Linked DNA regions of Homo sapiens. The protein of the gene in region 1 interacts with the protein of each later gene in a biochemical or structural test. Each region holds a gene or a part of one and is shown on either strand. Other genes may lie near its edges. The genes, in order: NR2F6 and NAP1L1.

What was found.
Region 2: the proteins of NR2F6 (region 1) and NAP1L1 form a complex in vitro, tested with the Homo sapiens proteins (one study listed by BioGRID).

The regions. Positions count from the first base shown.
Region 1 is NC_000019.10:17,229,888-17,245,541, reverse strand, and holds the end of NR2F6 (nuclear receptor subfamily 2 group F member 6), read left to right. Parts: 5' UTR 1-321; coding exon 322-599; intron 600-4,776; coding exon 4,777-4,871; intron 4,872-9,476; coding exon 9,477-10,043; intron 10,044-12,915; coding exon 12,916-13,190; 3' UTR 13,191-13,659; downstream 13,660-15,654. UniProt on the Homo sapiens protein: Transcription factor predominantly involved in transcriptional repression.
Region 2 is NC_000012.12:76,081,534-76,097,715, reverse strand, and holds the start of NAP1L1 (nucleosome assembly protein 1-like 1), read left to right. Parts: upstream 1-13,030; 5' UTR 13,031-13,149; intron 13,150-13,773; exon of another isoform or gene 13,774-13,883; intron 13,884-16,182. UniProt on the Homo sapiens protein: Histone chaperone that plays a role in the nuclear import of H2A-H2B and nucleosome assembly.

The DNA.
Region 1 (15,654 bases):
GCCCGCGCGCCCCCGCCGGGGCCCCAGGGCGGCGGGACGCGAGTCCTCTGGGCCCCCGGCCCGCGCCTCTAGCGTGCCCCTCCCGGCCCCGGGCCCGGCCCCGCGCACGCGTGGGAAAGTTGGCCTGGAACCGGCCCGACCAGTTCCGCCCGGGCGCGAGGACCGGCCGCAGGAAGTTGCTGCAAAACTTTTTTGGGGGGTGCAGCCCGTGCCCCCCGCGCGCCGGGGCCGAATGCGCGCCGCGTAGGGTCCCCCGGGCCGAGAGGGGTGCCCGGAGGGAAGAGCGCGGTGGGGGCGCCCCGGCCCCGCTGCCCTGGGGCTATGGCCATGGTGACCGGCGGCTGGGGCGGCCCCGGCGGCGACACGAACGGCGTGGACAAGGCGGGCGGCTACCCGCGCGCGGCCGAGGACGACTCGGCCTCGCCCCCCGGTGCCGCCAGCGACGCCGAGCCGGGCGACGAGGAGCGGCCGGGGCTGCAGGTGGACTGCGTGGTGTGCGGGGACAAGTCGAGCGGCAAGCATTACGGTGTCTTCACCTGCGAGGGCTGCAAGAGCTTTTTCAAGCGAAGCATCCGCCGCAACCTCAGCTACACCTGCCGGTGAGCCCCCCATCCGCGCGCCGCCGCCGTGCACCCCGCCCCGACCTGGGGCAGGCCTCTGACCTGCTCGGTCACCTTGGGCCTGGCGCTGACCTTCCCTGGGCCTCCACTGCCCCCTCTGAGATAGGGGCACAGCACCCTCCTCCCGCATTCCATGGCTGGGATTGTGTATACAGTCGGCGCTACATCGTTGCAGGTTCCCCCCCCATCAGGTGGTCCCTGGAGGCTTTTGCCCCAGTTACTTGCTTCTCCTTCCCTCCGCTTTTTCTCTGGGGAGGGGTCATCTCCGCGCTGGGGTGGGGGTAGGGGTGCTGTCAGGGGTGGTAACCCAACCCCAGGGCACCCGTTCTCGGGGATCCCGGCGCGCGGGATGCCCTCGAGGGAATCGAACGTGGAACTTGGACCGTGGAGCTCGCAGCGTCCAGGGGCCATTGTCTGCGGCCGCGCGGATCGATACGGCGCGCCCTTGGGGTCAAATATCACTTCCAAAGTCGCTGTGGCTACGGAGGCGGCAGACGGAGGGAGGCTGGGGTGGCACGGGGCGGCCTTCTTCGCATGAGGGGCCCAGCGGTGGGGGTGGGGGTGGGAGCTGGGCTTGCCCATCTCAGGGAACCCCTCTGGGCTCACTCTGGGCCTTGGGTCACCGGAAATCGCCACTGGAAGGCCGGCAGGGCCACCGGAATTGACTGAAACGTCCCTCTCCCCCAGGGGTGGGTGCAGACCTGGGGCTCCTGGAAAAATCCCTCAAACTTTGGGTGTCTCTGAGACGGGCAGGGAGTGAAACGTTTCCGAGCAGGAGCCTTGGGCTGTCCCAGGTCGGAGACCTCTCTGGCAGGGCGTGGCCTTGCTAGCTGTTCTGGCGGAAGGTCCCCAGGGAAAGCGATCGGGGTTGTCCAGCCCGGGAGTTCTTTTCTCACCGTTCCCGGGCGAGCATCCGATCTGTCCGTTTATAAGCCCCTACTCTGCACCCCAGGAACATGCAGGGTCTCTGTGGAGCCCGTCTAGACGGTCTCAGTTCCCAGCTGCCCAAAACAGAGGCCCAAAGGCCCAGAGAGAGGTCCTGGTGCCTGCTTTGCGTTGGACATGGAGGGACGCTGCCCGAGTTGGGGGCACTGTGGGGGAACTGTGGGGCTAGGGTGGGGACCGCTGAGTTCGGATCGGAGTGGCCCCAGGGAGAACGGCTGATGGAAGGCTTGTTGGCTGAGGCCACCAAATAGGGCCCCAGGTACCCGAGGGTGGAGTTTGGCCCCAGGTCCCGGGTCAGGGCTGGCCTGGTGTGGCCATGTGTGGCAGAGCTGCCTTGCTCCCTCCTCCAGCACAAAGTGGGCCACTAGACTTTGGCCTCATTCTTGCTGCTGGAAAACCGCCTGCTCTCTGGTCATATCTTTAGGGAGGGTAAGGGAGGGGGGCTCAGGCAGTTTTGGGGTCCCAGGAGCTTCCTGAGGGTGGTGTCAGGGAGCAGCAATTTTGGGTGGGGGGGGCCTTGCTTGGAGCTGACAGGTTTGTGCTGTGTCAGTTGTGTGACCTGGTGAAATCACCATTCCATTCTGAGCTTCAAATGGATTGAGCAGGGTCTCGCTGGGGCCCAGCCTGGGTAGTTTGATGCCAGCCCCTCCAGAGAGACCCCAGCTCCAAGTCTAGCTCCTGAGAAGCCCCCAGTCTGGAGGAGACACAGTGAGACAGATGCCCCAAGTCTGTGGGATCTGGGGTCCCAGGGAGAGAGCAGAGGCTCTGCCTGGAGGTCAGAGAGGGCTGCCTGGAGGAGGCTAGGGGACATGAGCCTTGAAGCATGGAGTTGGCAGGTGGAAGAAAGGCCACAGGGACATGCCAGAATGTGGTCCAGACAAAACACTTAGTGGCAGACTGGGGGAGCTGTGCTGTAAGAGGGGGACTGTGCAGCCATGGGAGAAGTCAGAGCTAGGTGGGCCTGAAATGCTGGCTGAGGGTAATGGGGAGCCATAGAGGGTGTGTGAGCAGGAGAGGGCTCTGATCAAATTGGACTGGAGGCCAGAAGCCCAGGGAGGAAGCTGAGTTGGGCCATGGGGTTGGGCAAAAAAGCTTGCACTCTTTAGGTGGGATAACAGGAAGAACTTAACTGTTTCCCTCCTTGGAGGGATGGATCTGTCCCAATTCCACAGCTGGGGAAGTTGAGACTGAAGGTTCAGGGCCTCCCCTGAGGTCAGGGGCCCCTGAGCTGGGCCTCTGCCTGCCTGCAGGGCCGCCCCAGGCCAGGCCGTTTCCACCCGGCTGCCCTGGACCCTCCCACCACCCAGCCGCTGGGCTTTGTTCTGGTTCTGCCTGAGCTCCCTCTGCCCTAGTGGGGCCTCTTCCCAGGGGCTCAGTGGCTGGTGCTGCAGGACCCAGGCAGTGGTGGAGGGGGGGTACGGGGGAGTGGGCGCAGATCCTCAGCTTTCCTAAGTTGGGTTCTCCGGCTGGGCTCTGGGTCTTGGCACTGTCCCCCGTGAACCCCTCTGACCCAGTCCATCCCATATGATAGGGCAATATCTGACCTCCCATTTTCAGATGAGGAAACCGAGGCTCAGTGGGGCAGTCGCCACCTGAGGGGCAGGGCTGGGTATCTGCAGCTGAGATTCATCTGTTTTGTTTTGTTTTGTTTTGTTTTTGAGACGGAGTTTCACTCTTGTTGCCCAGGCTGGAGTGCGATGGCGTGATCTCAACTCACTGCAACCTCTGCCTCCCGGGTTCAAGCGGTTCTCCTGCCTCAGCCTCCCAAATAGCTGGGATTACAGGCATGCGCCACCATGCCCGGCTAATTTTGTATTTTTAGTAGAGACAGGTTTTCTCTATGTTGTTCAGGCTGGTCTCAAACTCCCAACCTCAGGTGATCCGCCCGCCTCGGCCTCCCAAAGTGCTGGGATTACAGGCATGAGCCACTGCACCCAGCCTTTTTTTTTTTCTTTTTTTTTGAGACAGAGTCTCACTCTGTCACCCTGGCTGGAATGCAGTGGGTCAATCTTGGCTCACTGCAACCTCCACCTCCCCAGTTCAAGCGATTCTCCTTCCTCAGCCTGCCAAGTAGCTGGGATTACAGGCATGCGCCACCACGCCCAGCTCATTTTTGTATTTTTAGTAGAGACGGGGTTTCACCATGTTGGCCAGGCTGGTCTTGAACTGACCTCAGGTGATCCACCCTCCCCCGCCTCCCAAAGTGCTGGGATTACAGGCGTGAGCCACTGCAGAGATGCATCTGTTTAATTCCCTTAAGTGGTGGTTCTACTCTGTGACTGTCTCTGTGTGTCCCCTGGGTGTCCAGCTGGAACCCCAGGGGTAGTTGCTCCAGGCCCAGGCCTTGGAGAGCCCCCAGCTCCTGGTGGCAAGAGACCAGGGGAGTCCAAGGGCAGGGGCCAAGGGGAGAAGGTTCTGGGGACATTTGAAGAATAAGGCCTGGACCTTCCTGCTTGGGGGCTGACCCAGGATGGGGAGCTCACCACCTCTCAGGGTGGGGCCACCTGTCTCATCCCTGCAAGAGGCAACGGCATTCACTGAGGGCTGACCAGGAAAATCTCCAGCTTGCATAGGGGTTGGGTGGTCCTCTCGGAAGAGCGTAGGTGTGGGGCCTTCAGGGCTGAGGACCAGAGTGACTTTGTTTACTTCCTCATTCCTTGGGGTGGGCATTGTGCGGGTGATAATGCTGGGGCCCCACAATGCTATGACCCCACAGACCACTAGCCCCTGGCCTGACCCCTAGTTAATTCACAAAGTCCAGCTCTCTGACCATGTCCTCTTTGCCTTCACATCTTTTTGGGGACAATGACCCTGCTCAGCCTGACAGTGACCAAATAAAATGAAACTCTTTAGGCCTCCATATTTGTGTATTTCAACCCTTTTGCTCTGGCTGTACCCTCTCTCTGGGATCACCCCGCCATTCACCTGGAGAACTCCTATTCATCCTTCAAAACCCATGCCAATGTGCCCTCCCTGGGGTGTTCATCTGCTTTTCCACAGATTCCTCTTCATCCATCACCACTCATCCGGGTTATCCTGTCTGGTTTGCAGACCTGCAAGCTGAGCTCCTGTACCCCTTTGGGGCTACCTCTCCAGTCTAGAGGGCCCCTACTAGTATTTCTGAGGGGCAGCCTCCAAAGGCGGCTCATAGGCTGGTTCGGGGAGGAGGATATGGGGGTCTCAGGGAGCCCTGGCTTCTGTGTGCCCCCAGGTCCAACCGTGACTGCCAGATCGACCAGCACCACCGGAACCAGTGCCAGTACTGCCGTCTCAAGAAGTGCTTCCGGGTGGGCATGAGGAAGGAGGGTGAGTACGTGCTGGGGACACACTGGGGACGATCACAGCCGCTGGAGCCGGGGTGAACAAACAGCTTCTTCCTCCCCTTTTTCCCCTCCCTTTCACCCCTCCCTTTCACAGGGGTCTGGGTGCCTCACAGGGTGGGGGCCGGCGCCTGCTAACCTCATTACCACTGATCCCTTGATCCCGTGGGCTGCAGTCTGGCCCTAGGCTGGAGGAATCCAATTAGGATCCGTGGCCCCCTGGTTGCTGCCGTGGAGCTGAAGAGGCCAGGGACGCCCCACAAGGGACTTTCCCCAGCCCCATTCTCTTGCAGGAGCTGCCTTCCCCAATTACCCCCGACTCCAGCCTCAGAGGCCAGTTCCCTGGCCCTGACACCTTGGTGACCTCTTGTCTGCTAGCGCGGCCACCGCGTTCTGAACAAGGATTTTTTTTTTTATTTGATTTGTTTCTCCTCCACCCTTCACCCATGCTTTTTGTTTGCCCAAGGCAGGAACTCTGCCCGATTAAGGCAAAGGGCAGCTTACCCTTTCTTCTGACCCCGGGCGCTGGGAGCAAGAGTGAGGCCCAGCTGTCTCTGCTCAGGGGACCCAGGTGGACGGGCGTATTCTGGGCTGCTGGGCCTAGAACTCTGCCAAACCCCCTTAGAATTCAAGTAGAACCCAGAGATTTCTGCATGGATTTCTGGGGTTCAGGAATAGAATCTAGCCTATTGGACGAGATCTCCTGTGCTGGGTTTCAGGTTCCTCTGGGGACTGTGTCGTGGGCCAGGCTGGCAGTTCTTTCTAATGTCTAACCTGAGCCTCCCCTGCTTTGAAGTTTTTTTTTCCTTATTTTCTTTATTTATTTTTATTTTTATTTGAGATGGAGTCTCGCTCCATCTTCCAGGCTGGAGTGCAGTGGTGTGATCTCAGCTCACTGCAGCCTCCGCCTCCCGGGTTCAAGTGATTGTCCTGCCTCAGCCTCCCGAGTAGCTGGGACTACAGATACGGGCCAACACGCCCAGCTAATTTTTTTTTTTTTTCTGAGACTGAGTCTTGCTCTGTCGCCCAGGCTGGAGTGCAGTGGCATGATCTCGGCTCACTGCAGGCTCCGCCCCCTGGGTTCACGCCATTCTCCTGCCTCAGCCTCCGGAGTAGCTGGGACTACAGGCGCCTGCCATCTCGCCCGGATATTTTTGTATTTTTAGTAGAGACGGGGTTTCACCATGTTAGCCAGGATGGTCTCGATCTCCTGACCTCGTGATCTGCCTGCCTCAGCCTCCCAAAGTGCTGGGATTACAGGCGTAAGCCACCGCGCCCGGCACGCCCACCTAATTTTTGTATTTTGTTTTGTTTTGTTTTTGAGACAGAGTCTCGCTCTGTTGCCAGGCTGGAGTGCTGTGGTGCCATCTCGGCTCACTGCAACCTCTGACTCCCTGGTTCAAGCGATTCTCCTGCCTCAGCCTCCTGAGTAGCTGGGATTACAGGCACATGCCACCACGCCCAGCTAATTTTTGTATTTTTAATAGAGATGGAGTTTCACTATGTTGGCCAGGATGGTCTCGATCTCCTGATCTCGTGATCTGCCCGCCTCGGCCTCCCAAAGTGTTGGGATTACAGGCGTGAGTCACCGCGCCTGGCCTAATTTTTGTATTTTTAATAGAGATGGTGTTTCACCGTGTTGGCCAGGCTGGAGTCTCCAACTCCTGACCCCAGGTGATCCGCTCGCCTCAGCCTCCCAAAGTGCTCGGATTATAGGCATGAGCCACCCCACCCGGCAGCTTTTTTTATTTTCTAGAGACAGAGTCCCACTATGTTGCCCAGGCTGGTCTCGAACTCCTAGCTTGAAGCGACCCTCCCACCTTGGCCTCCCAAACTACTGGGATTACAGGAATGAGCCACCATACTTGGCGTAAAGCTGTTGTTTTTTGGTCTAGGCCTTGGTGGGAGAAGCTGAGAGAGGCAGCTGAGGGGCTTTCTTTTAAAACTGATCACTCCCTGTGGCCCTTTTAAGTTTGGGGGTAACTTTCTTGTCCCTGCCCCCATAACATGGATTTTGCCTCTACTTGTCTATTTTACCTAAAATCCTCATATATCTCAAGTCATGGCCTCAGAGCAAACAGCCTCGCCAGAAGTCTCCAAAAGCCTCGGGTGGAAATATTTATGATGACAGCTCATGCTTTAAGCACACCTGCCTCGGGTCCTTTGCACGGGCTCTTCCCTCTGCCTGGAGTGCACTTTTTCCAGGTCCATACATGGCTCCCTCCCTAACCTTGCCTTCAAGGTTTGCTCAAACATCACCTCCTCAGGGAAGCCCTCCTGATCCCCCTGTATTTGACGCCACCTGTCTTGTTCTGTAATTTGCTTACACCCAGAATGTCCATTCCCTGTGGGCAGGTATTTTTGTCTGTCTTGTTCCCCAGCGCCTAGACCAGGGCTTGGTACACAGTAGGTGTTCAATAAATGGTCCTTGGCTTGAATTACCATGTAATTACCTTTCCTGTGTGGCAGGCATTATTTTAAGGTATAGATTCTCATTTAATTCAGTGATTGGTGACATCGTTTTTGAGACGGGGTCTCACTCTGTCTGGAGTGCAGTGGTGCGATCATAGCTCACTGCAGCCTTAAACTCCTGGGTTGAAGTGATTCTCCCACCTCAGCCTCCTGAGTAGCTGAGATTACAGGTGTTCGCTACCATGCTGGGCTAATTTCTTAATTTTTTGTAGAGACGGGGTCTCGCTATGTTGCCCAGGCTGGTCTCAAACTCCTGGGCTCAAGCGATCTTCCTGCCTCAGCCTCCCAAAGTGCTAGGCTTGCAAATGGGAGCCACTGTCTGCATTTTACAGATGAGGAAACTGAGGCACACAGCAGATTGGTGAGGCCATTTGTCAGAGAGCAACAGAGTTGTGATTGGGATTTGAACCTCCACAGTCTGGGCTGAAGAGCTGGGGAGGGGTTTGAGGAAGAGTGAACAGAAAGTGCAAAGGCCGGCCAGGCGTGGGGGCTCACGCCTGTAATCCCAGCACTTTGGGAGGCCGAGGTGGGCAGATCACGAGGTCAGGAGATTGAGACCATCCTGGCCAACATGGTGAAACCCCGTCTCTACTAAAAATACAAAAATTAGCCAGGCGTGGTGGCAGGTGCCTCTAATCCCAGCTACTCGGGAGGCTGAGGCAGGAGAATCACTCGAACCCCGGAGTCGGAGGCTGCAGTGAGCTGAGATTGTGCCACTGCACTCCAGCCTGGTGACAGAGCAGAACTCTATCTCAAAAAGAGAGAGAGAGAGAGGGAGAGAGAGAGAGAGGAAGAAAGGAAAGGAAAGAAGGGAGGGAGGGAGGGAAAAAAGAAAAAGAAAAAGTTCAAAGGCCCTGGGGTGGGAATGTGGCCATGTGAGGGAGTGGTGGTTGCTCACAACCCAGTGAACAAAGCGGGAGGAAGCTTCCTGGAGGACCGGGGAACCACTTTTGGGCCCCATCCACCTATCCCCATTTGACAGTTGACTCAGACTCAGGGACCCCTTGGAGCGGGCTTCAACCCATGCCCTGGCTTCTCCGCTTAGCTCTGTTCGCCCCTGGCTTCTGCTCGCGTTCCCCTCCGGTGTTTGCTCTACACAGAGTTGACCTGGAGTTCACGGAGGTGATGAGATGGGGCATGCCAGCTCATTAAAGCTCATTAATTAGTCTGCTGGCAACCAGCCCAGTCAGCCCTGCCATCCCGCCCACCCCGGCACAAGCCAGGCAGGCACATGGCCAACTCTCTTCCTCTTCATGCCTCAGTTTCCCTTTTCTCACCCACCTGGTCACTGCAGACGTGCCCAAGCCAGCAGCAGGGCCTCCCCGCTTCATAAGCAAGGCTACTGATGGCGGCTAATGTTTACTGAGGACCTATGGCAGCCCCCCTGGGACCCCTCCTTACTGTAGGTCCCCCCCAACCCTTCCCTGCACTGTAGCCTCTGCAGGGACCCAGACCGGCCCTCAGGGGTCACCATCTGGTGGGGAGGGGGATGGAAGGTAGAGAAATGATCCCTGTTCCATAGGAGAGAGCCAGTGCTGGGTGGGTATTGATCTGTTGCTTTGGGGACCAAGCTGGCCAGGGTCCCCAAGTCCTCCATGGCCCATCCTCAGCTCTGGGAACCCCATGACTATCTGTTAGGAGGCTCCAAAAGGTTTATTAGATGCTCCTCCTTGTCCCCAGGAGCTGGGGGTGGGGGGTGGTGGCTGGACCTAGACAGGGACTCCTGGACTCTTACTTTCTAACCAGCCTGGCGCCCATGGGGTGGGGTTGGGCATTCTGGGAAAGGCTGGGCCTGGAGGCTTTGGAGGGGAGGGCCTGAGTGACCCCTTGATGACTTTTGTCTCCCTTTCCCGTTATTCTCCCTACCTGCCCCCCCCCACCTGCCCCCCACCCCATGTCTCTATGGGCACCTACTTGGCCCCTCATCCCCCCTCTTCCGGCCCTCTCCTCTCTACCCCTCGCTTCCCTTCCTGTCTCTCCAATCTCCTCTCCTCCCGGCCTTCTGTGCCCCGCCCTCCCCTCCCCCATCTCCTGTCCCTCCCCCGTTTCCTGCTGCCCGCCCCCCCCCCCCCCGCCTCCCCTCCCGCCCCCATGTCCCTCCTGTCCCCGCCTCCCGCAGCGGTGCAGCGCGGCCGCATCCCGCACTCGCTGCCTGGTGCCGTGGCCGCCTCCTCGGGCAGCCCCCCGGGCTCGGCGCTGGCGGCAGTGGCGAGCGGCGGAGACCTCTTCCCGGGGCAGCCGGTGTCCGAACTGATCGCGCAGCTGCTGCGCGCTGAGCCCTACCCTGCGGCGGCCGGACGCTTCGGCGCAGGGGGCGGCGCGGCGGGCGCGGTGCTGGGCATCGACAACGTGTGCGAGCTGGCGGCGCGGCTGCTCTTCAGCACCGTGGAGTGGGCGCGCCACGCGCCCTTCTTCCCCGAGCTGCCGGTGGCCGACCAGGTGGCGCTGCTGCGCCTGAGCTGGAGCGAGCTCTTCGTGCTGAACGCGGCGCAGGCGGCGCTGCCCCTGCACACGGCGCCGCTACTGGCCGCCGCCGGCCTCCACGCCGCGCCTATGGCCGCCGAGCGCGCCGTGGCTTTCATGGACCAGGTGCGCGCCTTCCAGGAGCAGGTGGACAAGCTGGGCCGCCTGCAGGTCGACTCGGCCGAGTATGGCTGCCTCAAGGCCATCGCGCTCTTCACGCCCGGTGAGCCACGCTCCGAAGAGGGCCGCGGGATGGGGGGACCCAAGGGAGGTTAGGAGGAGGGCGGCCTGGACCCAGACTCCGGCCCCCATAGCGCCCCGCTCGCTCCCTAGGCCTGGGGCCCTGCACGCGCCGTGAGTGAACGCTCTTGGGTGGCTGTAGAGGGGTGATGTAAGCAGTGTGACACTGTGACACCCCCACTCCGTGATCCCAGGACTCTCGGAGAACTCTGAACCCCGGACCCCAGACCCAAGGCTGGGCCAGGACCAGGGCCCAGACCCCAGAACCCTCTTCCTGTTCCCAGGCTCCCTGAGACCCCTACTCCCTCACCAAAGGGCTCTTCAGGCTTAGTGAGCACTGATAGCACAAGGTTGGGGGGACGTGGGAGGGAAGGTCCTGACCCCCTGGTTCTGGCCCCCTCAGGCCCCCACTGGGCTCCCAGGGCAACCTCCAGGTAGCCAGGGTTGTAGGGATCTGGGTAGGGGCGTGGCTCGGAGGCCCCTCCCGTTGAGGGGCGGGGCAACCCCAGAACTTTCTTAACCATCAGCTATCTAGCAGTGGTAGCCCATCGTATTCCAGCGACTGGCGGTACAGCCAAATTTTTTTTTTCCACTTTATTTTTTTATTTGTATTTCCATTTTTTGAGACTGGGTCTCACCCTGTCACCCAGGCTGGAGTGCAGTTGTCCGAACACGGTTCACTGCAGCCTTGATCTCCAGGGCTCAAGCAATCCTCCCTCACACTTCAGCCTCTTGAGTAGCTGGGACCACAGGCGTGCACCACCATTCCCGGCTAATTTTTTTTTAAACGTTTTCTGTAGAGACGTGGTCTCACCGTGTTGCCTAGGCTGGTCTTGAGCTTCTGGGCGCAACCAGTCCTGCCTCAGCCACCCAAAGTGCTAGGATTACAGGCATAAGCCACCATGCCTTTAGACAAAGATCTCTCCAGCCTGTCTCCTGGGAGTTCTTTAACCTACTGGAAGTCTCTAGATCCCATCAGAGGTATCTTTGGGGCTAGGAACCAGATCCAGGCTACTCTGGGAGGTGGCTTTCATTTGATAAATATGGTTTTGGGCCTGCAAGGTGGCTCAGGCCTGTAATCACCGCACTTTAGGAAGCAGAGTTGGGAGAACCACTTGAGCCCAGGAGTTCGAGGCTCCAGTGAGCTCTGATTTTCCCACTGCACTTGAGCCTGCGCAACAGAGTGAGACCGCGTCTCAAAAATCAATAAATATGGCTTTATTTATTGTTTTCCCAGAAGATTTTTTTTTTTTTTTTTTGAGACGGAGTCTTACTCCGTCGCCCAGGCTGGAGTGCAGTAGCACGATCTCGGCTCACTGCAACCTCCGCCTCCCTGGTTCAAGCTATTCTCCTGCCTCAGCCTCCTGAGTAGCTGGGATTACAGGCACGCGTCACCACGCCTGGCTAATTTTTGTGTTTTTAGTAGAGACGGGGTTTCATCATGTTGGTCAGGCTGATCTCGAACTCCTGACCTCATGATCTGCCCGCCTCAGCCTCCCAAAGTGCTGGGATTACAGGCGTGAGCCACCGCGCCTGGCCTTCCCAGATTTCTTCTTGGCTTCCTATCTTGGGTCTCTCTCTAGAGGCTGCCACATTCTCTCACACCGTAGGCCCTTCTGGGCTCTGTCTTCCTCATCAAATTCCCTTCCCAGCCCCACCTTCCCTGCGAGCTTCCTTAGAACCCATCTCCTTGGCCTGGCTGGTGGCCCTGTAATCCCAGCACTTTGGGAGGCCGAGGTGGGGAGATTGCTTGAGGTCAGGAGTTCAAGACCAGCCTGGCCAACACAGCAAAACCCGTCTCTACTAAAAATACAAAAATTAGCTAGGCGTGGTGGAGTGTGCCTGTAATGCCAGCTACTTGTGAGGCTGCGGCAGGAGAATCACTTGAACCCGGAGGCAGAGGTTGCAGTGAGATCGTGCCACTACACTTCAGCCTGGGCGACAGTGTGAGACTCTATCTTAAAGAAAAAAAAATTAGAACCTGTCTCCCTGCCAAAGGCATGAGTTGGGTGCCAGCCACCCTTGAAACATCACTGCCTGCACCCCTATGTCACTGGTTAGATGAGAACACCTCACTATCTCTGGAGGATCGACACAGTCTTAGATAGTCCCATTTGCATCCCAGGGTCGTTTTTTGTTTTGTTTTGTTTTGTTTTGTTTTGTTTTGTTTGAGACAGGGTCTTATTACTCTGTCGCCCAGGCTGTGCTATGATCATGGATCACTGTAGCCTCAAACTCCTAGGCTCAAGAGATCCTCCCACCTCAGCCTCTTGAGGAGCTGGGACTACAAGCGTGTGCCATCACACTGGACTAATTTTTATTTTTTATTTATTTTGAGACAGGGTCTCCCTCTGTTGCCCAGGCTGGAGTGCAGTGGCACGATCTCGGCTCACTGCAACCTCCGCCTCCCAGGCTCAAGCGATCCTCCCATTAGCCTTCCGAGTAGCTGGAACTGCAGGCACGCACTACCATGCCTGGCTAATTATTCTTATTTTTAGTAGAGACGGAATATCATCATGTTGGCCAGGCTGGTCTTGAACTCCTGACCTCAAGTGATCCACCTGCCTCAGCCTCCCAAAGTGCTGGGATTACAGGCGTGAGCTACTGTGCCCAGCCCCAGCTGATTTGTTTTTGCAGAGAAGGGATCATACTATGTTGCCCTGGCTGGTCTCAAATCCTGGCCTTAAATGATGCTTCTGCCTTGGCCTCCCAAAGTGCTGGGACTGTGGCCGTGAGCCATCATGCCCGGCCCCCTGTTCTTACCCACAGTGGCGAGTGGTGTCCCCTAGTCACCCCTGTGGGCTCTGTGTTCTCTAGCTGCCTCCCACCTGTCTGACTTGCCTTTGTCCCCCTAGACGCCTGTGGCCTCTCAGACCCGGCCCACGTTGAGAGCCTGCAGGAGAAGGCGCAGGTGGCCCTCACCGAGTATGTGCGGGCGCAGTACCCGTCCCAGCCCCAGCGCTTCGGGCGCCTGCTGCTGCGGCTCCCCGCCCTGCGCGCGGTCCCTGCCTCCCTCATCTCCCAGCTGTTCTTCATGCGCCTGGTGGGGAAGACGCCCATTGAGACACTGATCAGAGACATGCTGCTGTCGGGGAGTACCTTCAACTGGCCCTACGGCTCGGGCCAGTGACCATGACGGGGCCACGTGTGCTGTGGCCAGGCCTGCAGACAGACCTCAAGGGACAGGGAATGCTGAGGCCTCGAGGGGCCTCCCGGGGCCCAGGACTCTGGCTTCTCTCCTCAGACTTCTATTTTTTAAAGACTGTGAAATGTTTGTCTTTTCTGTTTTTTAAATGATCATGAAACCAAAAAGAGACTGATCATCCAGGCCTCAGCCTCATCCTCCCCAGGACCCCTGTCCAGGATGGAGGGTCCAATCCTAGGACAGCCTTGTTCCTCAGCACCCCTAGCATGAACTTGTGGGATGGTGGGGTTGGCTTCCCTGGCATGATGGACAAAGGCCTGGCGTCGGCCAGAGGGGCTGCTCCAGTGGGCAGGGGTAGCTAGCGTGTGCCAGGCAGATCCTCTGGACACGTAACCTATGTCAGACACTACATGATGACTCAAGGCCAATAATAAAGACATTTCCTACCTGCACAGCCTCCCTGGTCTTTATTTTTATTTTTTATTTTTGAGACGGAGTCCTACTTCGTCACCCAGGCTGGAGTGCAGTGGCGTGATCTTGGCTCACTGTAACCTCTGCCTCACAGGTTCAAGCGATTCTCCTGCCTCAGCCTCCCCAGTAGCTGGAACTACAGGCACCCACCACGATGCCCAGCTAATTTTATTTTTGGTAGAGATGGGGTTTCACCATGTTGACCAGGTTGGTCTCGAACTCCTGACCTCAGGTGATGCACCTGAGGCCTCCAAAAGTGGATTACAAGCGTGAGCCACTGTGCCTAGCCTCACTTACTTTCTTTTGGTCAACCTTAATCTTTTTTTTTTTTTTTTTTTTTTTTTTTGAGATGGAGTTTCGCTGTTTCACCTGGGCTGGAGTGCAGTGGTGCAATCTTGGCTCAGTGCAACCTCTGCCTCCCGAGTTGGAGCAATTCTCCTGCCTCAGCCTCCTGAGTAGTTGGGATTACAGGTGCGCACCACCACGTTCAGCTGATTTTTGTACCTTAACTAGAGGGGTTTTGCCATGTTGGCCAGGCTGGTCTCGAACTCCTGACAGGTGATCCACCTGCCTTGGCCTCCCAAAGTGGTGTGATTATAGGCATGAGCTGCCGGGCCCTTAATCTTGTTTGGGCTCCAATGTCCTTGGGAGAAACCTCTGGGGCCAGTCCTGTCACATGATGTAAGGCGAGCCAATCAGAGACCACCATTCCCTGGGCCACAGCAACTGGTTTATGGAGGCCCTGGGATGCCAAACTAGCCAGTGAGATTGCACGGTGGGATTTGGAACTGGGAGAATCTAATTAAAGCAGAGCCAAGGATGGAAGATCAATTTCCCAAGATGCCTTTGGAGCCCCAGATCAAGCCATACCTGAAACCCTTGGGTGTTTTAAGTTCTGTGAACTCAGTCTCCCCCCTTTTGTGCCTGAGTCAATCTGACTTCAGTTTTTTTTCTCACATGGAACTAAAAATCTGTTTCAGAGATTGACGTTTGGGAGTCAGGCACCTACAAGGCCAAGACTTTGAAATGTGGGCTTCACTGGGTTGATACGGAATCATGTGGGGTACCAGGGACTCTCCCGTCCCAGCCTCGGGAGTGTGTGGCACAGCTCTGTGGTGGGAAAGGCACCTGTGGAATTCAGCACCAGAGCTGTAGGGCAGAGAGAAAGGGCCCGAATGGTGGTGGGGGTGGCACCTCTCACTGATGTCCTTCTGTAGCCAGGCGTGGTGGCAGGAGCCTGTAATCCCAGCTACTCGGGAGACTCAGGCACGAGAATCACTTGAACCTGGAAGGCGGAGGTTGCAGTGAGCTGAGATCGCACCACTACACTCCACTCTGGGCAACAGAGGAAGACTGTCTGAAAAAAAAAAAAAAAAGAAAGATGCCCTCCTGAAAACAGCAAGGGAAGAAGTCAAGTCTGTCACGCTGCCTGCTGGGCCAGTGCTCAGCTCTTAAGCAGCCCCAGTTTGCCAAAATGCTCCCTAGTCTCCCCATGTCCATCTTGAAGAAAGCCTTGGAAGACGAGAGATTAGGCCCCTCCTGTGGAGTCAGTGAGGGTTTCTTGTGGGCACGTTCCCAGAAGGGAACTGAGGCAGGGGCGGGATGGAGAGGACACCAGGTTCTCGTTGAAGGCTGCACTGGGTTTTGCATTAGGTCAGGGTCTCTCCATGGTGTCCTGTGAGTGAGTGGGTCCATGTCTACTCCAGTCAAACTGGACAGCAAGGTCTCATTTATCCAATGCACAGGACATCTGAGGGTTGAGTGAGACCATGGTGTCTGTCCTGCTGTTTGGCCCCAGGCCAGAGATCTGGATGTCTGTCCAAGGCCTGACTGCTGAACTCCTACTTTTCCTACAAAACCCTACCCACATGGCCCTTCCTGCGGGAAGAGATCTTGAGCCTCCCTGGCTATTAAGACTCTGCTGTGCAGCCTTCTTTTACTGGACTCAGGGCTATCTTCCCCAGACTAGGGCCTTCTT
Region 2 (16,182 bases), on another chromosome or scaffold:
GAGTTAAATGAGATAAAGCATTCAGGCAATTTAGAAAAATACTCAACACATAGTTAATGGTAGCATTTGCTGCCTCAACTCCTACTGTTTCAGTTACTCTCTCCTGGATTTTTGTAACATATTTTTCAAAAATGTTTCTAAAATATTTTTTATTTATTTTATTTCAATTTTTTTTTTTTTTTGACAGGGTCTCACTCTGTTGCCCAGGCTGGAGTGCAATGGCTCACTCACAGCTCACTACGGCCTCGACCTCCTAGGCTCAGGTGATCCTCCCACCTCAGCCTCCCGAGTAGCTAGGACCACAGGCATGCACCACCATGCCCAACTAGTTTTTGTATTTTTAGTACAGATGAGGTTTCACAATATTGCCCAGGCAGGTCTTGAACTCCTAGACTCAAGCGATCTGCCCACCTCAGTCTCCCAAAGTGCTGGGATTACAGGCATGAACCACTGCTCCCAGCCCAAAATAATTTTTTCATATGATTTTAGAATAGGTTTAATCTGGCTCATGACCTGTATACATAATACCACCCTGATTGTGGGAAACTATGTATTGTATTTTTTTCATTACTAAAAAGTGGTATTTCTTTTTTTTTTTTTTTTCCTTTTTGTGTGTGTGTTTTTTTGTTTGTTTGTTTTTTGTTTTTTTTTAAGACAGAGTCTTGCTCTGTCTCCCAGGCTGGAGTGTAGTGGCACGATCTCCACTGACTGCAACCTCTGCCTCCCGGGTTCAAGTGACTCTGCTGCCTCAGCCTCCCGAGTAGCTGGGACCACAGATGTGCACCACCACACCCGGCTAATTTTTGTATTTTTGGTAGAGGTAGGGTTTCACCATGTTGGCCAGGCTGGTCTCAAACTCCTGACCTCATGTGATCCACCTGCCTGAGCCTCCCAAGCTGCTGGGATTACAGGCGTGAGCCACCCCGTGTGGCCTAGAAGTGATATTTCTAATAGAGGTTCAGTTTTAACTCCTGAAGGTAGTGAGGATGAATAGGCCCAAATGAAACTGACAAACATTTGATATCAATACATTTAATGATGGCTTTGCTAGAGTTTTTCTGTATGTGAAATACACGCCCAGCCAAAGGTGGAAGTTATCATTTGAGTAGTGTATTCTGCAATGTATTTTCCACACAGCCTTGAACAATCAGTCCAAAACTTCTTTCATACAGCTATTCTCTTGCCAGAAATCCTATCCTGTCACAAAGCAAGTTCTTACTTCCCTGTCAAGATTTGTTTTCACTGTCACTTCTGTGAAGTTGGCTCGCTGTCCTCTCCTCCATTGTTACACTTACATTGAGTGGTAACAGTTTGTTTACTTGTCTGTTTATATTGCAGTGATTTCCTTGAATTCTGGGACTCCCTCTTATGCCTTTAACTGGAAAGGATGGAGTCACAGGCTCAGGGTCTGATTTGATGCTAAGCTGCCTGTATTCTGATCCTAACTCTGCCACTAGTGGCTAATATGGTGTGGAGACAGGTGCTGGATCTCTCCGAGTCTCAACTACCTCATCTATGACACAGAGATAATAACAGTATATCATAGGGTTGTTGTGAGGATTCTATCAGTTAGTATTTGCAAAACTCTTTAGAATAGTGTCTGGCACAGAGAAGTGGTGTCAGTGGTTATTACTGTTGCCATTGACTTGATTTTTCTTTATTTCCAGATTTTATTTCTAGTTTGCTCTAATTGCTCAAATTTACTTAGCATTACGATTAATGACAAATCTAATTTTACTGCTTTTTGCTCCTTCTACCTTCAAGAACTAATCTTTTGAAATATAAGAGAATCACAATTTGATCCTGCAGAGATGGAATATTGAGAAATGAAGTATTGAACTTCTGTTATTGGCGAAAGGTGCATAGCTACCTTCCACTTTTTTTTAACTTATTCTATAATTCTTCCCATTCCGATAAGTCCCCCCTTGATCAATAAATTGATTCCCTTTTATTTCTGTACTTCACTCCCATTATCTTCTATTCCAATTATAATGTGTATAATATGTGTTTGTATTTAATTAGTAAAGATGTTCATCTCACCCCATTATATCATGATGTACTTGATGCCAACATGGCTTATAACTCATAATGTTAACCTTGATCATTTAGTTAAGGTAGTGTTTGCCAGGTTTCTTCACTATAAAGTTAATATTTTTCCATTTCCATACTATTTTCTTTGAAAGTGAGTCATTGTAATTCCATACCACAACCAAAAGGACAGGATTAATCTCTATCTCCTAGAGAGGAGTGTCTACATATATTCTTTAGAATTCTTTTTTTTTTTTTTTTGAGATGGAGTCTTGCTCTGTCACCCAGGCTGGAGTGCAATGGCGTGATCTCGGCTCACTGCAACCTCCACCTCCCGGGTTCAAGCGATCCTCCATGCCTCAGCCTCCTGAGCAGCTAGGATTACAGGCACCTGCCACAGTGCCCAGCTAATTTTTGTATTTTTAGTAGAGACAGGGTTTCATCATGTTGGCCAGGCTGGTTTCGAACTCCTGACCTCAGGTGATCCGCCTGCCTTGGCATCTCAGGTTGCTGGGATTACAGACGTGAATCACTGCGCCAAGCCTAGAATTCTTCTATAAGATAAATTTCTCCCTTTATCACTTAAGTATTTATTCAATAATACTTATATCATTATGGACTCATGGATATTTATTTTACTCTCTGAATTATAATCCAATACTATCACTGTTTTGTTGGTTTTTTTGGGTTTTTTTGTTTTTGTTTTTGTTTTTTTGCTGAAATTGTTCCAGCTTTGGCCACTGGGGAACTCTTTCCAATTGCCTCTGGTGTCCTTTTGACCTCTCTCCTACTTTTATAATTTTCTTTTTTTTTTTTTTTTTTTTTTTTAGCACTATAAGATGTTCCAGACTCGTCTTGCGTTTTCCCTCCTTTAATTGGAAATGGTATTTAGAAACTAAGATTTGTGAACTGGTCATGCTTGTTGTTACTGTGGTGTCACTATGTGTTAGGCTGTTCTTGTATTGCTATAAAGAAACACCTGGCCAGGTGCCGTGGCTCATGCCTGTAATCCCAGCACTTTGGGAGGCCGAGGCAGGTGGATCATGAGGTCAAGAGATCGAGATCATGCTGGCCAACATGGTGAAACCCTGACTCTACTAAAAATACAAAAATACAAAAATTAGCCAGGCATGGTGGTGTGTGCCTGTAGTCCTAGCTACTTGGGAGGCTGAGGCAGGAGAATTGCTTGAATCCCGGAGGCAGAGGTTCCAGTGAGCTGAGATCATGCCACTGCACTACAGCCTGGTGACAGAGCAAGACTCCATCTCAAAAAAAAAAAAAAAAAAGAAAAAAGAAAGAAAAAGAAACACTTGGGGCTGGGTAATTTATAAAGAAAAGAGGTTTAGTTGCCACATGGTTCTGCAGCCTGTACAGCAAGCATAACATTGGCAGAGTGGAGTGGGGGAGGTACCACATTTTACCAGATCTCATGAGAACTCATTCCTCACTCACTATGGTGAGGACAGCCTCAAGCCATGAAGGATTCTGTCCCATGACCCAAACATCTCCCACCAGGCCCCACCTCCAACATTGGGAATTATATTTCAACATGAGATTTGAGCAGGGACAAATATCCAAACTATATCACATTGCTTCTAGGCTTCCTCAGTGGGCAAAGCTAGGAAATATATTAGCCTATGTATATATACATCTTTATTGTCCATCTATTTATCATCCATCTATCATCTATCTATAAGCATGAATTCATTCATACCTCTATCTCTGACCCTAATCCAGCACCCCATGGTTCATTCTAGCCTTCTCTCCTTGCTTATTTGTGACTTTTTCCCAGTAGCAAGAGACCTGGCTCCCATTATCTACAATTATTTAGTTATTTGCCAAACCCTAGTGTTAGGAGTTGAATTGTGTTATCCTAAAATTCATATGTTGAAGTCCTAAACCCCGGTACCTCATAATGTGACCTTACTTGGAGATAGCATCTTTACAGAGATAATCAAGTTAAAATGAGGTCATTAGGGTGGGTTCTAATCTGACTGATGTCCTTATACAAAAGGGAAATTCAAACAGACACACACATAGAGGGAGGCACAGGGAGAGGACAGCTATTTACAAGCCAGTGAGAGAGATCTGGAACAGATCCTTCACCCACAGCCCTCAGAAGGGACCAACTCTGCTAACAACTTGATTTGGGATTTCCATCCTCCAGGACTATGAGAAAATACATCGTATTGCTTAAGCCACCCAGTTTGTTATGGTAGCCCTAGCAAACGAATACAGATTTCCTAGTATACAGGGAAATTAGTTTCCAAATTGCTAATGCTTATTATCTCTTTGATAAATAAATTTATCAACTATAGTGCAATGTTTATGTGTAGCTCTTTTTGCCTTTAGCCTTATAGTGTCCAGTCAAAATACTGTTTTCGAAAGTCAGCTCCTTTTTTACTCACCCCCTCAGTGAGATTATATGTTTATAATTCAGTTAGATTAATTTGTCACAGTCTGCATCTCATCCTAGGATCCCCCAACATCTGGTTGATTTTCTGAAAAATTGAATATAGCAAATGGATTTTGCTCAATGTATATAGTCATATATCCACTACCTATAAAATATAGAACAATTCCATTATCTTTAAAAAATCCCCTCTACAACCCCTTTGGAGTCAACTCTGCACCTCTCCTCCAACCCCTGGCAATCACTGATGCTTTCTATTTTCATAGTTTTGCCTTTTACATATGCTGTAGAAATGGAATTGTAATATATAGAGTTTTGAATCTGACTTCTTTCACTTAGCAAAAATGCATTTGAGTTTCATCCATGTTGTTGAGTGAATTGATGCAGGACAGGTGAGCCCCAGAATTGAGGCTTAGTCCTGGAGCGATCTTGGCTTTGCCCAGGAAAGAATTCAAGGGTGAGTGGCAGTGTTAAATAACAACTTTTATTGAAGTGGCAGGGTACAGCAGCAGCAAAGGTACTCCTCCTGCCAGAGCAGAGTTACCCTACAGGCAGTGTGCCCAGAGTAGCAGCTCAGAGGCACTTCTGCAGTCCTATTTATACCCACTTTTAATTATATGTAAATTAAGAGGTGGTTATGCAGAAGTTTCTAGAATAAGCGTAGTAACTTCCAGGTCATTGCCATGGAAAGGGGTGGTAACTTTCAGGTGTTGCCATGGCAATGGTAAACTGACAAGCACACTGGTGGGTGTGTCTTATGGAGAGGTGCTTCCACCCTAGACCTGTTTTAGCTAGTCCTCAATTTGATCCTGATGTCCAAACCCCACCTCTGGAGCCAAGTCCTGCCTCCTACCTCAGAATCAGTAGCTCCTTTCTTTTTATTTCCATCGTATAAATGTGCCACTGTTTGTTTATCCACTCACCTGCAGAGAGAGATCTTGACTGTTTCCTGGTTTTGCCAGTTAGAAATAAAGTTGTATACGTGTGTGTGTTTGTGTGTGTACATAAGTTTTCAATTCACTTGGGTAACTACTCAGTAGAAGGATTACTGTGTCATATAGTAAATGTATATTAAACTTTATTTCATTTATTATTAAAATTTTTTTGTTGTTCATTTTTTGTTTTTGTTTTTGTTTTTGTTTTTTTTGAGATGGAGTCTCACTCTGTCACCCAGGCTGGAGTGCAATGGCATGATCTCAGCTCAGTGCAACTTCCACCTCCCAGGTTCAAGTGGTTCTCTTGCCTCTCAGCCTCCTGAGTAGCTGGGATTACAGGTGCCGGTCACCACGCCAGGCTAATTTTCTCTTTTTAGTAGAGATGGGGTTTTGCCATGTTGGCTAAGCTGGTCTGGAACTCCTGACCTCAGGTGATCCACCTGCCTCAACCTCCCAAAGTGCTGGGATTACAGGCGTGAGCCACTGTGCCTGCCGGCCTATTTTTAAATTTTTTTGAGACAGAGTCACGCTCTGTCACCCAGGCTGTAGAACAGCAACACGACTGCTCACTGCAGCCTCGACCCCCCCACATACACCCCTCCACTCCCCCCGGCTCAAGTGAACATCCCACCTCAGTCTCCTGAGTAGCTGGGACTACAGGCATGCACCACCATGCCTGGCTAATTTTTAAATTTTTTGTAGAGACAAGATGTTGCTGTGTTGCCCAGGCTGGTCTGAAACTTCTGAGCTCAAGCAAAACTCCCACCTCAGCCTCCCACAGTGCTAGGATTACAGGCGTGAGCCACTGAAGAAACTGCCAAACAGTCTTCTGAAGTGATTGGACCATTTTGCATTCCCACCAGCAGAGTTAAGAGTTCCTGTTCTTTTATGTCTTTGTCAGCATTTTGTACTAATGTATTTTTTAAAATTTGAGCAATTCTAATAGGTGTGTAAGGGTACCTCATTGTGGCTTTATTTTGCAACCACTACATTTTAAAGATTCAATATTGCCATATTACATTCAATGTTCTGCTACATAATACTCCATGTTGTGCATATACAACATTTCACTCTCAATTGTCCCAGTAATGGGCACTCTGATTGTCTCCAAATTATACTGTGTAATTTGTTTTCTTTATTCATTATGATCTAAAATATATCAACATTTCTTTACTTTCTTTTTACCAGCAAGTTGTTTCATGGATGAGGGAAAATAATATCCAAACAAATACCCAAATAATATTCAAACGAAAACCCAAACAATGTCCAAACCATATTCAAAATCTTCTTGTGCAGATTAGGTTGTCAAATTTGTCCAATATAGACTCTATGATAAATGTAGAATTGATGTAATAGACTTCAAAAAAGGATTATTTACATGAAGTATTGTGACTTCCTGTTCGTTTTCAATAACCTCTTTATTTCCTTTCTCCATCCTTCCCTTCCTTTCTTCCTTGCATCCTTCCTTTCATTTCATTCTTTCAAGCAAATAAATATTTACTGAAAGCTGTTCACGGCCAGTCACTGTTTAAACCAAGGGTATGTAAAAAACATAACACTGCCCTGCAGCAGTTAACAGGCTAGTGTGGTGTGTGTTATGGGAGAAGGAAACATGGGCTCATGAATGAAAGAATGAATGAATTAATTAATAAATACATATCTACATAAATACCCACATACAAGTGTTGTCCGCAAACAGAGAAGGGTTTGCAGCCAGCTTTGTCTTGATGAGTCAGAGAACTTTCTCTGACTTGATTAGACTTATATTTTAGAGCAATAACTTTGGTAGATTGAAGTGGAATAAGAGATTGGTATTAGGGAGACCAACTGTGAGGCTATTGCAAATGGTTTAGGTAAGAAATATTGAAGGCCCGCACAAAACAATGGCATATTTTCTTTTTTTTTTGTGATGGAGTTTCGCTGTTGTTGCCCAGGCTGGAGTGCAATGGCACGATCTTGGCTCACCGCAACCTCCGCCTCCCAGGTTCAAGCAATTCTCCTGCCTCAGCTTCCCGAGTAGCTGGGATTACAGGCGTGTACCACCATGCCCGGCTAATTTTGTATTTTTAGTAGAGACAGGGTTTCTCCATGTTGGTCAGGCTGGTCTTGAATTCCCAACCACAGGTGATCCACGTGCCTCGGCCTCCCAAAGTGCTGGGATTACAGGCGTGAGCCACCGCGCCCAGCCTAACAATGGCATATTTTCTACCTAAGTGGTCTATGTGTGAGAAACAAAATAAAATAAAATCTAGGAATGTAGAACATTATTTGGCATATAAAAAAACAAAAAAACAAAAAACCCTGACCATAATAAAAGGTCAACATACACTGCAATAATCCTGTCCAGGAAAAAAAAGAATTAAAATTTAAAAATAAATGAATGAAAGGGCAACATAAGGGATCCTTGGGCGATATAGCTGATCTGTATCTTCTTGGTGACAGATACACAAAGCCACAAATGGTAATATTGTATAGAACTAAATCCATAAACACACAAATGGATCCAAGTGAGACTGGGAAAATCTGAATAAGATCATGGATTGTTACCATTATGGTAAACTGGGGAAAGTTTTCATGGATCTCTCTGTGTTATTGCTCAAAACTTCATGTGAATCTATAATCATTTCAATAAAAAATTCAGTTAAGTAATGACAGGAAAATAAAAATATTCTTAAACAAGGCAAGCATAGTGGCTCATGCCTGTAATCCCAGCATTTTGGGAGGCTGAGGTGGGAGGACCTCTTGAGCACAGGAGTTGGAGACCAGCCTGGGCAACATAGTGAGATCCCCAAAATAAAAAAATTAGCCAGGCACGGAGGTGTACATCTGTAGTCCCAGCTACATGGGAGGCTGAAGTGGGAGGATTACTTGAGCCAGGGAGGTCAAGCTGTAGTTGTACCACTGCACTCCAGCCTGGGTGACAGAGTGAGACCTTGTCTCAAAAAAAAAAAAAAAAAAAAAGCCAGGCACAATGGCTCACTCCTATAATCCCAGCACTTTGGGAGGCCAAGGAGGGCGGATCACCTGAGGTCGGGAGTTTGAGACTAGCCTGACCAACGTGGAGAAACCCCGTCTCTACTAAAAATACAAAATTAGCCAGGCGTGGTGGTGCATGCCTGTAATCCCAGCTACTACTTGGGAGGCTGAGGCAGGAGAATCGCTTGAACCCCAGAGGTAGAGGTTGCAGTGAGCCGAGATCGCACCATTGCACTCCAGCCTGGTCAGCAAGAGCAAAACTACGTCTCAAAAAAAAAAAAGATTTTTTTTTTAAACAAAAAAACTATTAATCCTTTTTTTTGAATGTAGAGAGAAAAATGTAAGGCATCTTATCCATAATTTTCCACTTGGAATTTGATTACATTGCAGCTATAAATTAATTTGGGGAAAAGTAGAAAAAAAATCCAGATCTGAAACTAACGTAACTGTTATTTAAATGTATCTTGTGCAGTTTTTAGATGATAATTATTATTAGTTCCCTTGGATGTTTTACCTACAGATTAATTCAGAGGGAAGAAAATAAATACTGAGTACTTAAAGGGCAAGTCATTGCTCTGGGAACTTACATACATTTCTCTATTTCATGCTAATAAAGACACAGATTTTATTATAATTATTAATGCATTTTTCAGATAGGGAAGCTTGAAGATCAGAGTGGATAAGTACTTTTGCAAGGTCACAGTGTTGAAGGAGCCTATACCTGTCTGATGTTAAAGCCTATGCTTTTTTTTCTACTACATAGGGGCTGAAACACAGACACAAGCACAGGTAAAATACCATCTTTGTCATCAAATTTCTTGTTGATCTTCATAGTTCTTATCCAATATTGAGAAATGTTGACTATAATATTTTTGTGGTAATTGGTGTGGATTATTTCAGCTCAGGAAAATGTCTTTTAAAAGCTGTGACTAGATAGCTTTTAATAAAATATGTCACAAAAAGTGTCAGACACTATCAGAAGACTTCGGGGTAGTTCCTTAAACCTTTAAATAAAACAAAAATAAAAACAAAACTTCAGTAAGAGGTTAAAAATGGTTACCTTTTATTGAGCGGTCACTATATATGTCAGGCATTATGTTAAGCAACTTAAATGTGTTATTTAAAGTTTCACAGCTGAGCCAGGCACAGTGGCTTACACCTGTAATCCTAGCACTTTGGGAGGCCGAGGCGGGTGGATTGTCTGAGCTCAAGAGTTTGAGACCAGCCTGGGCATTGTGCAACCCCATCTCTACTAAAATACAAAAAAATTAGTGGGATGTGGTGGCGCGCACCTGCAGTCTCAGCTACTTGGGAGGCTGAGGCACAAGAATTGTTTGAACATGGGAGGCAGAGGTTGCAGTAAGCCGAGATTGCGCCACTGCACCTCAGCCTGGGTGACAGAGTGAGACTCTGTCTCCAAAAGTTTCACAGCTGGGCAAGGTGGCTCATGCCTGTAATCCCAACACTTTGGGAGGCTGAAGTGGGAGGATCTCTTGAGTCCAGGAGTTCAAGACCAGCCTGGGTAATATACCAAGATCCCTCTTGACTTAAAAAAAAAAAAATTTTTTTAAGTTTCACAACAGCCCTATGAAAAATGCATGCTTATTTTCCCCATTTTACAGATGTGGAAAATGAAACCTGGGATGGCTAACTGACTTATCCAAAGTTACACAGCTATTAAGTGGTAGAAAAATGGGGACAAAATAGGCTGTTTGACTCCAAAGCCACCCCTCTAAGCCTCCAGGCTACAATGCTATAAAAGTCTACCAAATGAAAATCATGGGAGATAGAGAAAAAAGGACCTTTAATTTTAGTATATATGCTTCCAAAGAGAGCATGAGAAAAGGAACTGCAACAGAAAATTTCGCATGGCCCAAGATCAGTGACCAGGGTCACCATTTATTGCAATTAAGTTAGATGAGTTAACTACATTGTGTGATTTGGGGGTATAAGAGGGGCCAATGTAAAAAGCTCAAAGGTGGCCGGATGCAGAGGCTCACACCTGTAACCCCGGCACTTTGGGAGGCTGAGGCAGGCGGATCATTTGAGGTCAGGAGCTCGAGACCAGACTGACCAGCATGGTGAAACCCCATCTCTACTAAAAACACAAAAAAACTAGCTGGGCGTGGTTGCGCCTGCCTGTAGTCACAGCTAATCGGGAGGCTGAGGCAGGACAATTGCTTGAAACCGGGAGGCAGAAGTTGCAGTGAGCCGAGATCGCGCCACTGCACTCCAGCCTGGGCAACAGAGTGAGACTCCGTCGAAAAAAAAAAAAAAAAAAAGCTCAAAGGTATCTTCAGGTCAGTCACCTCCTACCCCTTTTCTCATTTTATTTTCTTTATAGCATTCACTTATCAATTATTTATTATTGATAAGTGAAATTGTTTTATTACTAATATTTTATTAGTAAAATTATTTTATCTCTAATCATTTGCCTCACCTCACTAGACCATAACTTCAATAAAATCAAGAACCGTGTCTTTCTTACTAAATGCTGTATTTCCAGAGTCCGAAGTTGTGCCTGACATAAATATTTGTTGAATGAATGCATAAATGTCTGCCCTTCCCTGAACTTTAATGGCAAAGACTTAGATTTACAAACTGGTTCAAAAGACTATATTACAAAGGCATGCATTATTAGAAATATTTTATTGTTTAGTTTCTTAGATTGGCTAGGATACACTGAAAAAAGAAGAGGAAGCTGGAGAAAAGGGGGAAAGAGCATATGTACTGGTAATGATAACACCTAAGTTATAGGGGTTGGTGGGGGGGTGGTGAAACCTAAAAAATCCAGAGCCTTCATGAGCGAAGTGCCGAAAATTGATGAGGCTCTCTGGTGTGGGATAAAAACCACCACAAAAGCTAACTTCTCAATTTTGTCTCAGAAATTCTGCTACCATAAAGATTTATGGAAAGAAAGTGAAAGTTATTTAGTTCATTTTAATATGCTAATTACCTTGCATCGTGCACAGCTTTGATTAAAATGCAACATTCCTGAAGTTCTTATTGAAATTAATGTGTCAAATTTATGTTCAAACTGAGCACTGGTCTACCTTGTTTATGTATAGTGGGTTCTTCCTGAAGATCCATTATTGATGCTATTATGCTCCTTGTATCATTACATCATTGTTGAGAAGGGTGTACAGGAATAGGCTATGAGAACAACAAAGGAATTGTATATGAAAAACTAAAATGAATGAATAAACAGAGTCGTCTGCAGTATAGAGTGGGAAGGCAAATAATTTCAATGAGGTTCTGGAGGGCCAAGGAAAACATTGTATCCCCTAAAACGGAAGATAAAGTTGCTAAATGTGTGGATTACAATAGGGGATTCTAGGCAGTTTGAAGTTTCAATAAATGCAAGATTTAGAGAAGAGGTTCTCAAACTTTGTGGTCTTAGGATTCCTTTACACTCCTTTAAAAGTTGAGGACCCCAAAGAACTTTTATGTGCATTACTGATACTGATATTTATATCAGAAATTAAAAGTGAGAAATTTTAAGAGTATTTCATTTAAAAACAATAAAGCAATCAAATATTAACAAAAAATAATTTTTATATGAAAAATAACTACTCCCCCTTGCCCCCAAATCGAGTTTTTGCAAATCTCTTTAACGTCTGGTTTAACCGCAGATGACTGGATTCTCCTATCTGCTTCTATTTTCAGTCTGTTTCCTTATCACATGTCACGTAGCCTCCGGAAAACCCCACTGTACACTTGTGAGAGAATGAGAATGCAAAAGGCAGTCTTGACATTAATATGGAAATAGTTTTGACCTTCCCCATGAAAGGGTCTGGGGACCCTCAGACCATACTCTGAGAACAACTTTTTGAGTTAGTATTAGTCAATTCATCATCACTTGAAAATTAGCTATGAGGTTTTACAAGCCTGAGGATTTAATGTGATTTACTTTTTCAGAAAGATGAAACAACGGACGTACTGAGTGTCCTCATTATAACGCATCCAGAGAATGCACAAATATGCCATTTTCATCCGTCAAAAGAACTGAAGCCGAACTGACGGACTGTACATCAGTTACGAGGATGTGGCGGGGGGTTGGGGGGCAAAGGATGACGAGCACCCCCTAAAGGCGCGGAGACCCGCTGGCATAGGAGAAGCAAAACTGTCAGAAGAGGCCGCCGAAGTGGTCTAGAGGAAAAAACTGTTTTTCTTAGGCGGGGAAGGAAAACGGTTACCGGGGGCCGGCGAGTTGCAGGAATTAGGCCTTGACAGGGAGCGTCCGCCGTCTAGGCTGCGGCGAGCGAGGGACCAGGCGACTGGCGCCAGCCCTGAGCGTTCCCAGCACAACGCCGAAGGGGGCGGGGCGGGCCGGGCGCCGGGCACGCGGGCCAGGCCTTCCCCACAACTGATGGGGTTGAAATTTCCTTTCCGGCTCAGCAGGGAGAAAAGATATGGTGGGGTGCTTAACAGAGGAGGTTAGACACCGGCGGGAACCAGAGGAGCCCAAGCGCGGCGCCTGGGCCTCGGGGCTGCAGGAGTCCTCGGTGGGGGTATGGAGGTCGCCGGGGAAGGAGGACGGTTCAGTTGCTAGGCAACCCGGCCTGGACCCGCCTCTCGCTCGCGTTGCTGGGAGACTACAAGGCCGGGAGGAGGGCGGCGAAAGGGCCCTACGTGCTGACGCTAATTGTATATGAGCGCGAGCGGCGGGCTCTTGGGTCTTTTTTAGCGCCATCTGCTCGCGGCGCCGCCTCCTGCTCCTCCCGCTGCTGCTGCCGCTGCCGCCCTGAGTCACTGCCTGCGCAGCTCCGGCCGCCTGGCTCCCCATACTAGTCGCCGGTAACGGATGGGGGCCTGGAAGGGAAGGGGGAACGTGGTGTTGGCTGGGCGGCCTGCGCAGATGGGAGGGCCGGAGGGATGGAGGGACTGGGAGCCGGGAGTCGGGGCCGCTGGCCGCCCGTGGCCTCCGGGGTCGTCCTGTGAGGTCGGACAGGACCGCGGAGTCCGGACCCCGGAGCCTGAGAGGGGCCCCGGGGCCGACCAGCGCTTTTATCGGGGACGGCTGAGGCGACGTAGGGGTTGGCGCGGCCTGGAGGCCTAAGGTTCTCTGAGCTCCACCGTCTTTTCCGCGTGGACCGGAGCGAGGCCGCGGTGACGCCCGGGTGCCCTGAGACTCGGCTGCGCCGCGAGGACCGGGAGGCCCCCGGCGTACGGGCCGGGCCGAGTGCAGAGCCGGCCGCCTCTTGGACACCCCCCTGCTTTTCCCTCAAAAATAATACCAGGAGGGAGGCCGCTGGGAGATGAAAAGAACGGCGGAGGCTGCGAATTCCGACGGGAGGGAGGGGCTGTGGAGGGACGAGTCCCCGAGGCGGGGAGGGGGCGGGGGAGGCTGCGACGCTCCCGGGCTCTCCGCCCATTGGGGGCGGCCGCGCGGGGAGGGGAAACCCCCGGCGGCTTCGCTCCACACGTGGTAATGGGCTTCATGGCCACTGGCTGGGCCTGGTTGGAGACCCTTGCCCTCGGTCTGTGCTTACTTTGAAAGTTGTAGAGACGGTGGAATGTGAAAAGGAAGGGTAAGCGAGTAAGCCCTGTCCCTGGGTTTCAAACTCTTCCCTGCTTCTCTTTGGTCTTAATCTTTTTATTGGTACCAGAGATTGTGGATGTTAGCTGATGATAAGGAAGGGCCTCCACTGCTAGTATTTTAAAAAGTTAACGCGTATATAGCGCTTATATTAACTGTTATTAGCAAAAGGTTGTTATTGTGTTTCCCAGGTACTGTTAGATGGGTGTCTTGATCAGGGTTTTTTATTTGGGGAGTATTGATCCTGATCGATCTAAACCCCTAAACCAAGCTTGTCCAACCCGCGGCCCAGGACGGCTTTAAATGTGGCCCAACACAAATTCATGAGGTTTTTTTTTTTTTTTTTTTTTTGGAAAAAAAAGCTCATCAGCTAGTTAATGTATTTTACGTGTGGCCCAAGACAGTTCTAGTGTGGCCCAGGGAAGCCAAAAGATCGGACCACCCCTGCAAACGGTTCTTAGATGAAAATAAAATGTTTGGCCCTTTATGACTTTAATTGTTCTTGGCTGTCTTATAAATTAGTTCCTTTATTGAAGTCACTAGAATAAGATACTTAACGGTTTCCTTTTTAAGATGGGAGGTGGGATGGAATGAGGTGTTAGTATAAACTTTGCCAAGTTTGTAGCCTGCAACCTTGTCAATGAACCCTACTGCCCTAAAGATCTGGGGGATGGCAGTGTAGGGGGGCTGGGACTGAGGTCCCATCTGGGAAGGCTAGACTTTGAGAGTGCAAAAAGGATGAACCAGGCGCAGGATGTCCTCAAGGAGCCCGTATTTTAGACGGTCACTGATCAGTTTTGAAACAACTACATTTTAAAAATCTCACTGCTACATTTGAAGATATCCCACTGCTGCATTTTAAAATTTACACTGCTTGCCTGGTTTCACAAGAGCTGTAAAATGAAATTTGGCCTTTTGAAAATAGGTGGATTCAAAACATCTTTGGAAACGAGTATCTGGGTCCTCTTTTTTTGGTCAGCTTAAATTAATACTCCTATACTTTGGAAGTAATATACATTACCTTTGATTGAATAAGGGAAAAACCTTTTATGTATAGGGTACCATTTAAAAATCGAAGGGAAGTAAATGACTTTTACAGTTATTTTCAAGGCACTCTTGTGTTTCAAGCTTGTTTGAAGTTGCCCAAGTTTAAATAAATGGCCTAAATCTATAGTTTAGTTCTAAGAATACTGTCCTTTGGAGAATGTATGGAACTAAACCCTGGTAGGTGGACTTGGACATCTTCTGTCATAAAACCTGACTTTCATAGATTCTCCAAGTCAACATTATGTTAGTAAATAGAAATTTAAAAGTTTTCACTATACCAATTTGAATATCTTTCTAAATTTTATCTGCTACAAAGTGCCTATTTTTATATTAGGCCCATTGATTTGCAGAATTATAAAGCTAATACTGAATATGGTAAATTACTGCACTTGGCCTTTAATGAGATTTTTGAAACGAATACCTGTACCATAACTAATGTAATCCAAAATGCCATCTCATTTTATTCAGCTTGCTCCTGTTGGCTCCTGGTAAAACTGAGTTGATTCTAAATTCTCAAAATATATTCAAAACTAAGGGTCTTTTTGTAGAAGGGGCTAAAGAAGCAGTATCTGTTGGACTTCAAAGGTCTGAAGATGTCAAAATACAATATTTTATTCACTTCTTGGTTGTAAATTTGAAACAAAGGATTAGAGAGAATGACTCATCAATATCAAAATATTAATGATCAGTGTATTCAGATCTTCAAGTTTAATCAAACCTGTAATTGTGTTCTCAGTTTAGTCTTTGGGTAACTATCTAGCACCTGTATGGACATGTATCTTATGTCATGAGCAAAAGAGGCAAATTGGTTGCTTAGATGTAGAATGTTAAATTGTGATGAGAGCTATAAAGGAAGGAAAGGGTAAAGGGGTCAAAGAGTAATACAGCGTTTACACAAAGGAACCTGTTATAATTTGATGATTTTAAGTTCCATTTCAAACTAGTTTCATCTAAATAAGTTTTTGGGCAGAATAGGGGTTAGAAGGAGAGAGTTGTTACTTTACACCTATCCATATGTAAGTCGTTTAGCACAATGACTACAGAACATTAGAGTACATTAGTGGGCTTGCCATAGAAAATGGCTTCTATACCTTTGGTTACCAACTCTGCCTTTTACTTCCTGCATATTTGTATATATTTTTACTTATTCAGAAGTTTTGTACATTTTAATTTTTATTGGGAAACAGGGTTATATATATTTTTTCCTTGTGGAGACAGGCTCTTGCTGTGTTGCCCTGGCTGGT